2 separate regions of the Homo sapiens genome follow, and region 2 is linked to region 1. The links come from fine-mapping of genetic effects on gene expression. A gene starts in region 1. The other region holds a variant in brackets. All regions are shown on one strand. Distances are between the middles of the regions. Region 1 holds the start of PHLDB2 (pleckstrin homology like domain family B member 2). Region 2 holds the start of LOC107984087 (a long non-coding RNA gene).

Region 1 (8,339 bases):
TCAGATCTCATGAGAACTCACTATCATGAGAACAGCATGGGGGAAACTGCCCCCAAGATCCAATTACCTCCACCTGGTCCCACCCTTGACACTTGGGGATTATGAGAATTACAATTCCAGGTGAGATTTGGTTTGGGACACAGAGCCAAACCATATTAGCTAGCAAAGGGGCTGAATCAGGGCTTAAAACCCAGTTCTGCCTTACTTCACAGTCAATGATTTTTCCACTGCACTTTGCAAGTAGAAACTTCTTGATTCATTAAATCATCATAATATTAAAGCGAACTTCAGCACAAACAATTGTTCCATGAGTTAAACTGCAGTAAGATTGAAATGAGTTAATAGCTACAAAGATTTGTTAGGCTATCATTGCAGAGAAAGGAGCAAATATACAGATTCAGGACATAAAAAGTTAATCAAATCCAACCGATCTTTTCTAATAAAAGAGAACAATAGCAAAAATAATTACAAATGGAATAACATAAATAATTCATAATATCACTGTATGTGTTTCAAAGTGAGCAGGTATGTACAAACCTACTCCCAAAGACCACAGAAGCTGAAAAGCCAAAGAAAGAGGCTGACAAGTCCAGTTTCTCAGAAAGAAACATTTAATAGAGACTTATGAACAGAAGCCATGTCCCCAGTGGCTGTGAAAAAAGATGGTGCATCTCCACGCTGTCACTCCCAGAGTCAAGACACATAAACTAAAGGAAAAGAATGTGTAGGAGAATTGAAGTCGACCCCTTGGGGAGAGGCAAGAATGCTCTGTGAATCTGCCCATGGGCAGGATTTATGGTCAAGGTTGTTTTGACCCAGGGGCAGGATTTAAGGTATCAGTAGATAAAGTACAAATCTTAGAGTAATTCCCAGAACTCGGGTTAATCAGAAGTCAACAGGTAATCTTCCATGGAATTAGGGTAAAAAGAAAAAAAAAAGTCAGCATGGCAGATTAGCATCCAAGATAGAGTTGCTTTAGCCTCAACACTGTGCAACACTTTAAGGTTCCCCACCTGAGAGGGTGAAGGACACAGGAAAGTAAGATCAGGGACTGTAACCACTACAGATCCTGGAGAGGCAAACAAGAAAGGTCTGCTGTTTAGTTTACAACACAATATCTCTAGTGATAAGGAATGGCAGAGCGCAGGCAGGACTCTGGTCTGTGATTAAACAGAAAACTTTATTATAAAGAACCCAGGAAATAGAAAAGGTAGAAAGACTCTCTCTTTCTTCCTTCCTTCCTTCCTTTCTTTCTTTCTCTCTCTCCCCCTCCCGCGCTTCCCTCTTTTTCCTTCCTTCCTTCCTCCCTTCTTTGCTTCCTTCCTTCTTTTCTTTCCTTTCTTTCTTCTTTCTTTCCATCACCATTACTAAAAGAAAGTCTGGTAATATAATAATAACAATAACAGTTGCACTTTATTGAGTGCTTTCTATAGATGTTGAGGTCTGCATTTGTCTTTTTTTTTTTTTTTTTTTTTTTTGGCGACAAGGTCTCACTCTGCCACCCAGGCTGGAGTGCAATGGTGCGATCATGGATCACCCAGCCTCGAATTCTCAGGTGATTCTCCCACCTCAGCCTCCTGAGTAGCTGGGACTACAGATGGTGCACCACCATGCCCGGCTAATATTTTTGTATTTTTAGTAGAGACGGGTTTTGCCATGTTGGCCAGGCTGCTCTGGAACTTCTAATCTCAAGCAATCCTGCTACCTCGGCTCCCAAGGTGTTGGGATTACAGGCATGAGCCATTGAGCCTGGACTGAATTTATCTAATTTAAGACTTGCACCTTCAGGGTGGTCTCGTCTATCTTCAGGCTGCTATGGCCTTATGAAAGCTATTGAAAACCACTCTAACTCATCAGGAATGGGAAACTTTGCTGGGTTTAGTCACTTGAAAAAGTCACATTCAATGACTACTTTTTGAGTCCCTTCCATATATAAGTCTTGGAGTATGATTCATACAAATATGAATAAAATGACTCCCTTTGCCTTCTAGGAGCTTGGCTATCCTAAGAGATAGAGATGCTAGCAGATAAAACAAGGCAGTGAAGGGAGGCCAGTGAGGATTACTTTTTGTCTAGTAATTTGGAATTATTCATTATACAGAAATATCCCCTAGTAACATTCATACTTAGAAAAGAGGTAGAAGGTAGCATTAAAGACAATGAACTCAAGAACAAGTGCTCAAATTCTGCCTCTACCAACTTATTACCTGAGTGACAACTGACTTCTCTGTGATTCCTTTTTTACTTATAAAATGGGAGTAGTAACAAACAGTAACTCTCACCGCATCAACTAATATTGTCCTATATTTGGAAGAATACCGGATACGTATACAATAGTAATTATTGCTCTCAATAAATTTAGCTATTTTTTTCTTAGACATAAATATTGGCAATCTAATTATGGCCATTCTAAATGTGCTGTGTTGGTGCACATTCTCCTTAGACCTGAAGGGAGAAAGGTTGTCTCTAAGATGTCTGTGTAGTCAAGTGTATTTCTGGCATTGCTCGAGGCAAGGAAATGTTTGCAACACAGTGCTTTGGGTCAAAGCCATCATTTATTCTTGAGCACCATTTACATGTCCGGTATCCTTGTAGGCACACTAGGGATATAGCACTGGAGAGAACAGGCAAAACTCTCTGCCTGCCTGCCTTACATTCTAGTGAGGAGAGACAGACAATAAACATAATTTAAAAAGTACATTTTACAATATAGTAGAATGTGGTGACTTTGTCAAAAAGTAAATTTAAGTAGTATGGAAAACACATTTTAAACTTTTAAGTAGAGTGGTCAGAGCAGGCCTGAGCAACACGGTGACATTGAACAGGGTCTTGAAGGAAGTGAGGGAGTGAACCATGCAGATACTTGGGAGGAGGGAATTATAGGCAGAGAGGGCAATTAGAACAAAGGCCCTGAGATAGAACGGATTTACCTAGGAATCTAGTCTACGAGGCCACTGTGGCAGGGGCTAAGTGAGTGATAAAGGGGAAGTAGGAGGCTGGGCACAGTGGCTCACACCTGTCATCCCAACACTTAGGGTGGCGGAGGCAGACAGATCGCTTGAGCCCAGGAGTTCAAGAACAGTCTGGGCAATGTGGTGAAACCCCATCTCTGCAAAAAATTCAATATTAGCTGGGCATGGTGGTCTGCACCTGTGGTCCCAGCTATTCAGGAGGCTGAAGTGGGAGGATCACTTGAGCCCAGGAGGTTAAGGCTGCAGTGAGCTATGACTGTGCCATTGCACTCCAACCTGGGTGACAAAGTGAGGCCCTGTCTCAAAAAAAAAAAAAAGAAAAGAAAAGAAAAAAAAATTCCAAGGTAATGGAAATAAAATGATTGTATGTTTATGGGGATGATCCAAAAAAGAGGAGGAAAGAGATGACGTGGGTGAGAAAAGAACATTGCTGGAGCACTTAACTGTTTAACTGTTGGATTGATCAGTGTATGTATGCTTCTGCAGGGCAAAAACTCAGGACAGGGAAAAGAATTCCTCTAAAAAACCCGGCATTCCTAACAAACATATGAAAAAAAGCTCATCATCACTAGTCATTACAGAAATGCAAATCAAAACCACAACGAGATACCATCTCACGCCAGTTAGAATGGCAATCATTAAAAAGTCAGGAAATAACAGACGCTGCAGAGAATGTGGAGAAATGGGAACGCTTTTACACTGTTGGTGGGAGTATAAGTTAGTTCAACCATTGTGGAAGACAGTGTGGCGATTCCTCAGGGATCTAGAACTAGAAATACCATTTGACCCAGCAATCCCATTACTGGGTATATACCCAAAGAATTATAAATCATTCTACTATAAAGACACATACAAACGTATGTTTATTGCAGCACTGTTCACAATAACAAAGACTTGGAACCAACCCAAGTGCCCATCAATGATAGACTGGATGAAGAAAATGTGGCACATATACACCATGGAATACCATGCAGCCATAAAAAAGAATGAATTCATGTCCTTTGCAGGGACGTGGATGATGCTGGAAACCATCATTCTCAGCAAACTAACACAGGAACAGAAAACCAAACACTGCATGTTCTCATCATAAGTGGGAGTTGAACAATGAGAACATATGGACCCAGGGAGGGGAACATCACACCCTGAGGCCTGTTGGGGGGTGGGGGACAAGGGGAGGGAGAGCATTAGGACAAATAACTAATGCATGCGGAGCTTAAAACCTAGATGAAGGGTTGATGGGTGCTGCAAACCACCATGGCACATGTATACCTGTGTAACAAACCTGCACGTTCTGCACATGTATCCCAGAACTTAAAGTATAATTAAAAAAGAAATTTAAAAAAGACATTCCGTAGGTGAGGCTCTCCCTAAAAGTCAAACTTTTACTTGCACATATGAAAAGTGTAATCATTAAATAAGCTATTTCTTCAGTGACGGTATACTGAGTTCTGCTCATGGTGCCAAGTACTTTGCATATATTATTCAGAAGCTTATTAGCTGCCCTGCAGCACCAGTATCATTTATTGCTGCACTCCAGGTGAAGAAATTGTTGCTGGGAGCTACAACAACTTGCCCAAAGCCACAATGATCATAAGTAGTTTGCGCTTCGTTGTGCTCTTCTTTGCTGGTGTGAGATTCTCGAGGGCCAATGTCCTTCATCTGCGTAACTCTAGGGACTCGCCCAGACCTTGGAAGAGGTTCACATTCCCGCGTGCCGAGATTGATTATGGGCCACCCTCGGTCTCATTCGTTGACTTCCAATAAAGCATTGGCTGGTGGACCTCTACATCAGCATTGTTTTCATTGGATATAGCAACTCAGAAAAATATTGGGGAAAATATAAAAACTTTCAAGAGATATGATTGCAAGAAAATCAGAATGAGTTTAAAACCCTCCTGACCCCAGTCCTTAGCTCAGGCCGTTCTCCAAGGATTTTGCAAACCTGCTTTCTGACGCAGCTGGTAAACTTGCCCCGGGGCGAACTGTCGGAAGGAGGTGCGGTCACCTGGAGTTTCCCAATAGATACTTCGCTGTCTGGTGAGGAAATCATCACCCTAGGACGTAAACCCTCCCGCCCTTCTTTCAGCTCTTAAAAAAAGCCTGCCACGAAAGTCCCTACTGCGTTGCTGCGAACGTAGCTTTGAGAAGCTGGCGCCCAGTGATGGGGCAAACAGCCATGCCCTTCCAGCAGCCGTGAAAGCCCCAACAGCAAACTGCCTGGGAGCGGGGCAGGTCACCAACTTCGTTGCTCGAACTCCCTGGGTGCCCGCCGCGGTGGTTACAAAGGGGGTCAAGAGTGCCGGACCCAGCCGCGCGGAGCCCACCATTGCGGCCCGAGGGGGACCCGACGGGGGCCCGACGGTGTGGCGTGGCGCAAGGAGCGCGCCTGCCTTCTCTCGCCGCCGGGAACGGGCTGCACCAATGGCCAGGTGAGGAGGCGGCGGTGGTCGCCCGGGAGGAGGGGGTGGTGCCGACTCCGTGTGCCAGGAGTGCGTCCCGGGGACGCTGCCTCCCCCGCGGCCGAGTTGGTTGCCGCCGGTTGCGCTGCGGAGGGTTGGGGGCGGAGAGGAGGCAGTGGCTGCCCGGGCCGAGGAGGGGCGCGCTGACTGCTCACCGCGAGTCAGGAGGGGCCGGCGGGCTCACGGAGGGAGACAGGGTGGGCGGGGGCAAAGGCTAGGCGCTAGGGCGGCGGCGCCAGCGTAGAGCGGCGGTTTGGAGGAAAGATGAGACGGTGAGTGGGCTCCGGGGACACAGAGTTTCTTTGCTTCTTTACAGGCTGTAGGGACAAAAGCCCGGGCTGGGGTCGGCAGTGCCCAGGCTGCGCAGCTGGGTGGGTGGGGGTGGCGAACCCCGTTGTGCATGACTCTCGGGGGGCTGGGTAGATCTCCGGTTGAGGGGATCCCGGGGAGGGAGTGTCTGGTAGGGAAGATGCTTCCAGAGTGATTGTAGAAAACAGGCAGAATGTGGGGGAACTGGGGGCAACTTTTTCCAGCAACTCTGGAATGCACATGGAGAGAGGGATGGGGATCCTTGGGATAGCTCCCTGAGAAAGAGAAGGTCCGCTGCTGGATGGTGTAGGGCGCGGGATTCAGAGAAGACTCCCTCCCCGCAAATATTTGGCTAGCTGCGCTTCTAGTTCCACTTTCTTTCAAGAGTGAACCTACGAGCTTTAACCGCCAAAAGCGGCTGATTTCGATTTGGCCTTTGACCCCCCACTGAAAGTTTACAGTGTGGCCGTCTCGGCACCCCTAGAGATAGCAGCTGGAAGGCTTGGGGAGTATTTTAACCCTCTGTTTCTCCAGCTCCCTGCGCGGCGGAGGCGCAGCTGAATCGTTTGCTGGTTCGCTTAATAACTTAGCCCTAGCAGTCATCACTTATTAAAGCGCCGAGGACCTGGCTAACTCCCGCCACCACCAGGAAATTAAAAGGCTGACAGGCTGTCCCTCCCAGGGTTGGGGTTTCCTGTTTGAAAGAGCTTGAGAAGTCAAACTGCTTCGCGGTTCCTCACTTACCTTTCTTATGTAAAAGAGGGAGCGACGCCCGCAGCTTTTTCTCTCGGTAAACTACCCGTGGCTGGAAATCCTCCGGGCGCCTGGCCCTGCCCTCTTCCCTAGAAATCTTTATCCTGCAACTCTGAAGTAGCTCTAAAGAGCTCTAGAATGCACAACTAGTCATAGCCAGGCACAGCTGGGAGTGTAACTAGACGAGGCATAAAAATGTGGAGTCTTTTTAGTGTAAATATTTGTCAGCCACATTTCCCTTCGTAATATGAACGTGTAAGTTACAGATGTAGGTTTTCAAGTATTGGACGTGTAATTTTAAGCTTCCTAGTTTGGTTTAATTTGGGCGTTCGAGATATGTCTCTGGGATTCTAACGTTTGAATTCGGCTGGGAGAGATCTAAATGAGGTCCACAGTTTCAGAAGGTTAAACTTTTGCCCTGTGAACACTTGAATTCTTGGTTCCTGGTAGGTTAGCAACAGAACTGTCGGATTTGGGATAAATAAACCGTTAGAGTTGCCCACTATTTTAACAGAATGGCTATATCTCTCTTGCCGTTGCCTTCAATTGTGTAAATATTTGTTTGAATAAAGAGCGAAGGTTCTTTGAAAAGTAACAGTTCTGTCTATTCTTGGCTCCCCTTTCATATCCTCTGCTTAGTTATTTAAAAGGATTTTCTTTGCCTCTTACATTTAATGGGGAAATTTAAACATTACATGTACTTAAATTCTGTAAAGTTACCAAACCATTTATAACTGGCAAATTATTTAATGACAAGGAAGAGTTGAGTTTGTCGTCTTAGTTGGCTAATGTAGCCTTCATCTCTTGAGACCCAGAGGTTTGCAGATCTCAGCCTGTCAGAAGTGGAAAAATGAGATGTCTGGTTAAGAGTAGTCATCATTTCAGTCAATTTGCAGGCCTCAATCTGTTTTATGCAGCTGGCAGCTGCTGTTCTTTTGGTGTTGAGATCGTCTGCCACGAGTGTCGCCTGGATCCCTGTTTGAAAAGGGGAGGAAAAGATACTTGGGAAATTGGACTGAGAGCTTGCTTACTCCTCCGTTCAATAACTGTGACCAAGCTGAAACTCGTTAGCAACCTTTCCAGAAACGTTTTATTTACCATGTGTGTTTGTTGTGTATGCAAGAGAGGAAAAAATAAGCCAAAGTGATTAACCAATCTCTGGTTTTCCCTATTTTCTTCAAAGCTCCATTTTGAGATCTATAAGCAAGGGTTGACTCTCGAGTTCATTGGAGAAGTTACCTCGGCTCACTACAACTTCTGCCTCCTTGGTTCAAGCCATTTTCCTGCCTCAGCCTCCCGAGTAGCTGGGATTACAGGCGCCTGCCACCACACCTGGCTAATTTTTCTATTTTTAGTAGTGACAGGATTTTGCCATGTTGGTCAGGCTGGTCTCAAACTCTTAACCTCAGGTGATCCACCTGCCTTGGCCTCCCAAAGTACTGGGATTACAGGCATGAGCCACCACACCCGGTCTCCTTTTAAATATTTTTAAAGGAGTAGTTAACGTTATGGCTTTATATCCTGATTTTCAACCCTTAGCAGGGAGGCAGTGCTATGGTGCTGTGGATGGCTTAGAGTGACAGTGGCTTTGTACATTTTCTAGGTGGAGTACCTGTGCCTTATGAATCTATCTGTAAAGTCTTGGTGTACCAATTGTTGATTGTGTAAATGTCACTCTTTTGAAACAAAAACACCTAAGTGATGTGCTTTATCTTAAAGTCCTGACATACATTAGAGCTGTGGTTTTCACTGGGAGAGGGGTTTTGGCCCCCAGAGGATACTGGCAACGTATTTTTGGTTGTAGCAACTGACAGGAGGAGAGTGCTACTGCCATATAGTGGGTAGA
Region 2 (8,339 bases), 57 kb before region 1:
AGCCATTGCCACAGAATTTTTCCTTCATATTCTTGTTGACTGCCTTACTTGAAAGCAATTCAATCCATGTGTAAGGATTCCGTAAGACAGTCTGTCATGAGACAAAGGCAAAAATCCCTTGGTTCTATTTTTGCTACCATCTGTGTCTTTTTAAACTCCTCCTATATGTGGAACTTTTTCATTGCTTTGTTTGACTTCTGTAAATCTGCTAAATATGTTTACAAGCAACTTTCACAACCCTTCTCCACCATCACTCCCACTTTGATGTCCTACCATTTTAGAACTGGATAGATATTTAAGATGCTCTTAACTTTGCAGAAAACAGAACAACCAAGCCTCAGAGAAATGAAGTGATTTGCCGAAAGCTACGCAATTGTGATTACTCAATTGTAGAGAAATAGGGTAGGGTGCAGTGGTTTGCGACTGTAATCACAGCCCTGTGGGAAGCCACTGTGGAAGGATCGCTTGAGCCCATGAGTTTGAGGCCAGCCTTGGCGATATAGTGAGACACCCATCTCTATAAAAACATAAGAACATTAGCTAAGTGTAATGGTGCATGCTAGTAGTCCCAGCTACCTGGGAGGCTGAGGTGGGAAGATCCTTTAAGCTCAGGAGGTTGAGGCTGCAGTGAGCCAAAATCATGCCACTGCACTCCATCCTGGGTGACACAGTGAGACCCTATCTCAAAAAATTAAAATTTGAAAAATTTGAAAAACAATTGTAGAGGAATAGAAAACAAGGTGAACTTCTAAGACCTTGGCCTTTATAATTTACTCCCAAATTTTCTATCTTAAAAAAAGAAGAAGAAAAAGAATCAGGGAACATTCTAAATCTGAGAGTGCTCTAATTTTTCAAAAGATGTTTAAAAAGTCAATTTTTACCATCATTCTAAAGAAAGCAAGGAAATAAGACCTAAAAATATTTAAAACTCAAATCATCTGTATAGGAGAATTTTGGTATGTTCTAGGCTTCCTTGTGTTTACTTTTCATACTGCTTTCTGTAATCAAGTAAGATTAAGTGAAAATTACCTGGGCCACAAAACTGCAATGAAATTATTAAAGCATTTATTTAAAATATTTTCAGTCAGGTGCAGTGTATCATACCTGTAATCCCAACACTTTGGGAGGCTGAGGCAGGAGGATCACTTGAGCCCAGGAGGCCAAGGCTGCAGTGAGCTATGATCATGCCACTGTCCTCAAGGCTGGGTGACAGGGCCGGAGCCTGTCTCTAATAAAAATAAAATAAAATAAAATAAAATAAAATGTTATTTTATCTTTAATCTGAACAATTCTAGGATCTGGCATCTTTGATGTTTCCAATACAATCAATTTCAAAATATATGCTGAATTTCTACTATGCAAAGGAGTGTTGTTTAGACCTCATATGAGGGCCAGGAAGGTGAGCTAACATGGAGACAGGCTGTATGAGTCCACTCTCATGCTGCTAATAAAGACATACCCAAGACTGGGTGATTTATGAAAGAAAGAGGTTTGATTGACTCACAGTTCAGCATGGCTAGGGAGGCCCTAGGAAACTTACAATCATGGCAGAAGGGGAAGCAAACACATCCTTCTTCACATGGTGGCAGCAAGGAGAAAAATAAGAGCCAAGTGAAGCAGGAAGCCCCTTATAAAACCATTGGACCTTGTGAGAACTCACTATCACAAGAATAGCATGGGGGAAACCACCCCCGTGATTCCATTACTTCCCACTGGGTCCCTCCCATGACACCTAGGGATTATGGGAACTAAAATTCAAGATGAGATTTGGGTGGGGACACAGCCAAATCATATCACAAGCATTAAGAAGCTGGTACTCTTATTATAATGGGAGAGGCCCACATAGCCAAAAAAATCACTCTGAAATCTATCATGGTGTCAGCACAATTTGAACACAGACTGCTGTAAATAAAAGAGGAATAGTAGTCTTTGAATTTAATACTAGAAAAAAGTATTAGAAAAGAAAATTAAATTCTACTTCAGTTCTTCACATTGGTGAGGTAGACAGCTTCAATTGGTCTTTAAAAATATAGACTGATTTTCTATAAATTATTTTTTTGAAAGCTAGAAATACTTTAGAAATATGTCATCCCAATCAGAAAAAAGAAATTCTAAAGGAAGGTGAGGGAGAAGAACAAACAAGTAAATGTGAAATTGTCTCAAAGACATCAGGTTGGGTACTGAATTAAGTTTTTCTTAAAATCAAATTATAAAGACTTCCAGCAATTTCACTGCTGGAAATTTATACTGTGAATATCTTCCTATGTGAAGATATCTATTGTGGTTTTCCATAATTTACAGAAACTGAAAACAATGTTATGTATTCATCAGAAAGGACTGCTTTATTTAACTGTGTTCAACACATGTCATAGAGTACTATGCACTCCTGAAAATGAATTAGGGAGATCTATAGATACCAATATGGGAGGAGGTCTAAAAAATATTACTAAGTAAAAGGCAAGGAAAATAACTATATAGAAATATAAATAGAATCCTATTTGTGCAATAACAAGAGTGTATAAATGTACTCCTCATAAAGCATTTCTAGGAGGATACTCGAGAAACTTTTTTTTTGAGACAGAGTCTTACTCTGTTACCCAGGCTTGAGTGTGGTGGCACAATCACGGCTCACTGCAGACTCAACCTCCCTGGGCTCAGGTAATCCTCCCACTTCAACCTTCTGAGTAGCTAGGACTACAGGCATGCACCACCATGCCCACCTAGTTTTTGCAATTTTCTGTAGAGATGGGGTTTTGCCATGTTTCCCCGGCTAGTGTTAAATTCGTGGGCTCAAGTTTCTGCCTGCCTCGGCTTCCCAAAGTGCTGGGATTACAGACGTGAGCCAACATGCCTGGCCAAGAAACTCTTATTGAGCATATCTTTGGAAAATGAGACTGGGAAATTACATGAAAAGAAATTTTTATTTTATACCCTCTGTGCCTTTTGATTATTTTAAAATTATGGAGAGGTATTACTTTTGTATTACTTTTTGTTTATTAAATTCCTATACTATTATGCATATATCATTTTAAAACTATAGTTCTTTTAAGTTAAGTTTACTTGGGCAAATGTCCTAATTTCTTTTCTCACTGTATATCTTTAGTTTCTATATTCCAGTGACTTTGTTGTGGACTATGTGTTTGCCTCAGATTTTCCCATCTCTAATAATGTCATGAACTGGCATTTCTGAACTTTCATTTTTACTATTGGACTCTTTAATCCTGCTTGTTTTAAGAAGCATTTTGCAAGTTACACGTTAACTAAGATGCAGTACCTGATTTAAAGGGGACATACAATGCAATGAGAGAGACAGAAACTATTTTTACTTCATAAAATCCAGTTTTATAAAAAGCTCTGTTAATAACACTGAGGGAGTGTGAGAACACAAAAGAAAGCTTACTAAATTTGGCTGGGGAAAGAATCAAGGAAGATTTCTAAGAAGTTATGCCAATTAAGATAAATCTTGAAAAGATGAATCAGCTGGTACAAGTATAATACATTGCCTTCATAGATCATTTTGCAAGACTTAGAATTAGTGAAATTTAGACATAGAAGAGACCTTAAATAATATTAAATGTAACATTCTCATTTTTAAAATAGAGAAATGTGACTTGTTAAACAACATGAGCTGTGGGGTCAAATTCAATGGCCAATACAGAGTAGACACTTAATAAATATTTGCTCCCTTCAGAACTGGCCACATAAATTACAGGGCCCAGTGGAAAATGAAATACAAGGCCCCTTGTTCAAAAGTTATTAAGAATTTCAAGACAGTCACAACAGAGTGTTAAAACAAGCATAGGCCCCTCTGAGCACAGGGCCACATTGAAATAACCCACAGTCCTGGGGTTCATGAAGCAGGCCTCCCTCCCTCCTCTAATCTAAGTTTCAAGGGGTAAGTAGACACAGAAACTAAACAAGAACTCAGGTCTCCTTTGGATACAAAGACCTCAAAATTTTAAAAGCTCATAAACAATCTGTTCACCCAATATTTTTAACTGAGGTGATATGAAGATCTCATATTTATCTTTATATAATAGTTAATAAATTTGTGCCTTTATTCATTCATGTCACAAATATGAATAAATGTGTCCCAAGAGCCTAGGACAAGGCTGGTTCATAATAAGTATTCAGTGAAGAGTAGGTGAAGGATGGATGACCAGATGAATGAGTGACTAAACAATAAGCTACAATTGAGTATTATTGCCCATAAAAAGAAATAAAATTTTGATACATGTAACACCATGAATGAACCTTGAAAATATTATGCTAAGTGAAAGGAGACAGACACAAGAGATCACATAACATATAATTACATTTATATGAAATGTGTGGAATAGTCAAGTCTATAGAGACAGAACATACATTAGTGGTTGCTGGGGACTGGGAGGAGGGAAGAGTAAGGAGTGACTGCTCATGGATATGGGTGTTTTGTTTTGTTTTGTTTTGTTTTGGAATGATGACAA[T/C]GTTCTGGAATAAGATAGCAGTGATGGTTGCACAACTTTGTGAATGTAATCACAAATATCATCAAATTCTAGACTTTATAAAGGGTGGATATTATAGTATATGAATTCTATCTCAATTTTTAGAATGTAAAACAATAAATTAACCAGGATAGAAAGATTTAAGTAACTTGCTAAAAATTGATTTGTGTTACTTGTGATGATTATGCATCTAACATCAAAACTTTGGCTCCTAGTTCAGGCTTTCTCCAGTCTATCAAGCTACTGCACAGAAAACTGCAGAGTGCCACCAGCTATCTCTATGGCTCCATGGAGCACTGTGCTTACATACAAGAAACCTCTCTTGTACCAAAGTGTAAACACAGTGGTGGCTGCATTCTGCCTCCAGAGGATCTGGCCTACAGAGTGAAGAATAAAGGGGAGACAGAGCAAGGGGAGAGCACTTTCCAAGAGCTTCCTCATTTTCTCTGTGTTGTCCTAGACACCACCCACTAGCCTTGTATCTCAGGTCTTGGTTGAGAAACCAAAATAACTAATGACACTCCTATGATGCCTTGGCAGCATTCCCTGATAACTTAGAATATTTATTTCCTGTTTTCCCAACTCTCATTTATTTCCATGCTAGCATAGAGCAAGATGACGTGTAACCTCTTGTGAAATGCTTGATATTTGTCCCTTAGAAGAGACATTAGTACTATACATTTAGCAAATAGTAAAATAACAACACTCATAGCTTGTTCTTGTGAGTAATATGTGAAAGTTTTCTAAACTGTATTTTAGTTTTAACTTACATTCGTTACAGCAGAGTGAGGCAAGCATCATGCATTCTCTCTCTTTTAAAGAAAAAGCACTAAAACTTCCATTTTTTCACTTCTAGTTTATGATCCTCTCTTCTTCCTTACCATGAGAATCAATAAGGGTGGGTGGTGTGAACACATGTTTTTTGTCCTGTCAGGAAAAGTTAAAGGTTATGGTCCTGCTCCCAAATGATAGATAATTAATCATCTTTAAAATGGCAACCTGTCACTGGAAAAGGAAAAGCAGAAATATAAAATAAAGCAGATATATGATATCAGGTAGCAACAAGGATGTCACAGATTTAATGAGTATAGGGGATGTTGTACAAAAAGTTTTATACTAATCTCTAGAAACAAAAGAAAAAGCAGAAATGATCTATATGTTCATAGTCTATATGGCCATCTCTCTAATTTTGAAATCAGCAGTCATTCCTTGGTTGGCATCTGCTACTTGGGAGCAGAGGATGGAAGAACACAGCAAACAAAAGTTTCATCGTTAAGCTGTGAAGCAGAGGGAACAGGCAGCTAGCCAAAACTTATGTGGTTCTTCAAATTTCTGATGGGGATCAGAGTGCCTCTCCCTCACTGACAAATATGGAATGGAATGTAAGGTTGCTACTAACAGGGTTCTCTGCAATCCTGAGATTGGTTCTGTTCTAGCCAAAGCTCTTGGATTCCTGTAAACTCCAGTCCAGTTGAAACTTCCCGGGAGAATGTGCCCCCACCACCCCGTGCAGAACTCCTGGACATCTTAGTGACAGCCCCACCCCCACCACTAGTCTTCCCAGAATTCGAGCTGTGAGAACACATCAATTCCTGACTCAGGCATTTGAGTCAATTTTCAGTGAACTCAGGATAGTAGAATGGAACACCATCTCACCCACCAGCAATCCCTGGCTAGCACATGAGTGGGAGGAAATCATGGGCTTTGAAATCAAACAAACTCAGGTTCTTACATTCACTAATTACACTCAGAAACTGTGTATTCTTTGTAGAATTTGAAAGTGTTAACCTCATTGAGCGTTACTTCCCTCAGCTATAAAAAATGGATATAACAATTTTTTTCTCTGATGTTGCTTTAAAACAAAGTGAGATAAAGAATGAAAATTTCCAATTTACAAATATTTCTTAACAAAGCGTAGATTTGTTCCTTTCTATTCCAAAGCTAATGACTTCAGGTGAAATGGTATCTTGAGAGTGGGGGGCATTCTGAGGAATCAGTCTCAGACCAAATTCATGTAATCAGTTGAAAACGTCCTGTTTGATTAGTCCCTTTAAACTCTTTATGTGCCTTTCCTGTCCTCTAATTCAGTTTCTAAACTTTTGTTCAGTATCACATCCCTAAAGAAGCCTTTTTAGACATTTTTTCTGATCGTCCTCTCCTCCATGAGATTTAATGCCACAGAGACACCATTATGTTGTTTGTGAACTGTATATAGGTATATCTGTGCTTTATACATTAAAATAGTAAGAAAATGTTAAACCCCCCAAGAACCAATTTTCACCCTTTGGTGGACAATATTGTTCCTATTGAGAACACATGGTCTATAAACAAACAAAAAGTTAGAAGAATCTTTGAAGAGATAATCTTTTAAAGCCTGTGAAAGAAGACATTATTGAATTCTTCTGAAGAACAGAGTCTTCCCTTCATCATCTCTTAACTATTAGAGGTAGAAAACTTTGGCGAAGTTTTAACAATTTCTTGATTTCCTATGTTTAGCCAATGATGTTCAGGTCAACCTGTTAGAAATAAAGAAAGAAGCCTCAGATGCAAAAAAGTAAATGATGATGCTAGGCCCCAACCTACTGATGTATTGTTTTCTACGCAGAGTATAAGATATACTATCTGCAGCATAAGTACAGTAATAATGGAGCTAAACCTCAAAAAATTAGTCCCACATCACTTGACTAATAGGTTTCTACTTTACTCCATGTGGATGTCCAGATTTTGCCCAATTAAACTTTCATTTCTTATTTAAAATTACAGCTAATACTTACCATTGAAATTTTGGGGGGAAAACTTTGCTAAACTGCAGTGTTTATTTGACTTTTTAAATAACTGTGATGCTGAACAGTAAGAATTAATTTGCACACAGGGCTTCTAAAAAGTGGGCCACTTCTTATTTTGAGAAAAACTTCAAAATTATGTAATAAATTTCACTGAGAAATAAAATATTGACATAAATAACAATAGAACAATATCAAGTTTTTGGTAAAATAAAAAGTTATTCATGTGAAAAATAAAATAATAGAACAATACTAGGTGCTGGGGAGGATGTGGAGCAACCAGAAGTCTTATACACTGCTAGCAAGAATGTAGAATTTGAAAGTGTCAACCTCAGTCACTTTGGAGAACAGTTTGACAATTTCTTAACACGTTAAACATACGTGTGCCTTGTTACCCAACAAGTCTACTCCTAGATATAGGAATTTACCCAAGAGAGATGAAACATAAGTCCACAAAAGACTTGTACATAAATGTTTATAGCAGCTTTGTTCATTATAGCCAAGAACAAATTATGATATATCCATACAAGCTAATACTACTCAACAATAAAAAAAATTACTGGGGCCGGGCGCTGTGGCTCAAGCCTGTAATCCCAGCACTTTGGGAGGCTGAGGCGGGCAGATCACGAGGTCAGGAGCTCGAGACCATCCTGGCTAACATGGTGAAACCCCGTCTTTACTAAAAATACAAAAAAATTAGCTGGGCATGGTGGCGCATGCCTGTAGTCCCAGCTACTCGGGAGGCTGAGGCAGGAGAATGGCACGAACCTGGGAGGCGGAGCTTGCAGTGAGCCGAGATTGCGCCGCTGCACTCCAGCCTGGGCGACAGAGCAACACTCCGTCTCAAAAAAAAAGAAAAAAAATTACTGGATAAATGCAACAACATGGATGGGTCTCATAAACAGCAAGCTTAGTGAAAGAAGCCAGACACAAAAGTATACATACTGTCTGATTCCATTTTTATGGAATGCTAGTAAAGACAAATCTAATCTATAGTGACAGAAAGCAGGTCAGTGGTGCCTGGGGCCAGGGGTGGTGAGTGGGAGTGTTGACTGGGAAGGACACAGGGAAA

Evidence for each region.
Region 2: its variant is fine-mapped to the expression of PHLDB2 in lung (TOPMed, PIP 0.96).

The regions. Positions count from the first base shown.
Region 1 is chr3:111,854,176-111,862,514 of GRCh38, forward strand. PHLDB2 (pleckstrin homology like domain family B member 2) reads left to right here and starts at 5,090. Exons shown (of 18, transcript NM_001134438.2): 1 at 5,090-5,401. It overlaps LOC105374040 (a long non-coding RNA gene), which reads right to left and starts at 6,641. Exons shown (of 4, transcript XR_924333.4): 1 at 6,485-6,641. RefSeq lists enhancers at 4,912-5,498, 5,499-6,083, 6,414-6,523 and a silencer at 5,548-5,607.
Region 2 is chr3:111,797,449-111,805,787 of GRCh38, forward strand. It overlaps LOC107984087 (a long non-coding RNA gene), which reads right to left and starts at 1,147. Exons shown (of 4, transcript XR_001740848.2): 1 at 1,105-1,147. LOC105374040 (a long non-coding RNA gene) reads right to left here. Exons shown (of 4, transcript XR_924333.4): 4 at 1,730-7,000. It also overlaps a transcript of PHLDB2 not described here. The variant T/C (reference allele first, on the strand shown) is at 4,467.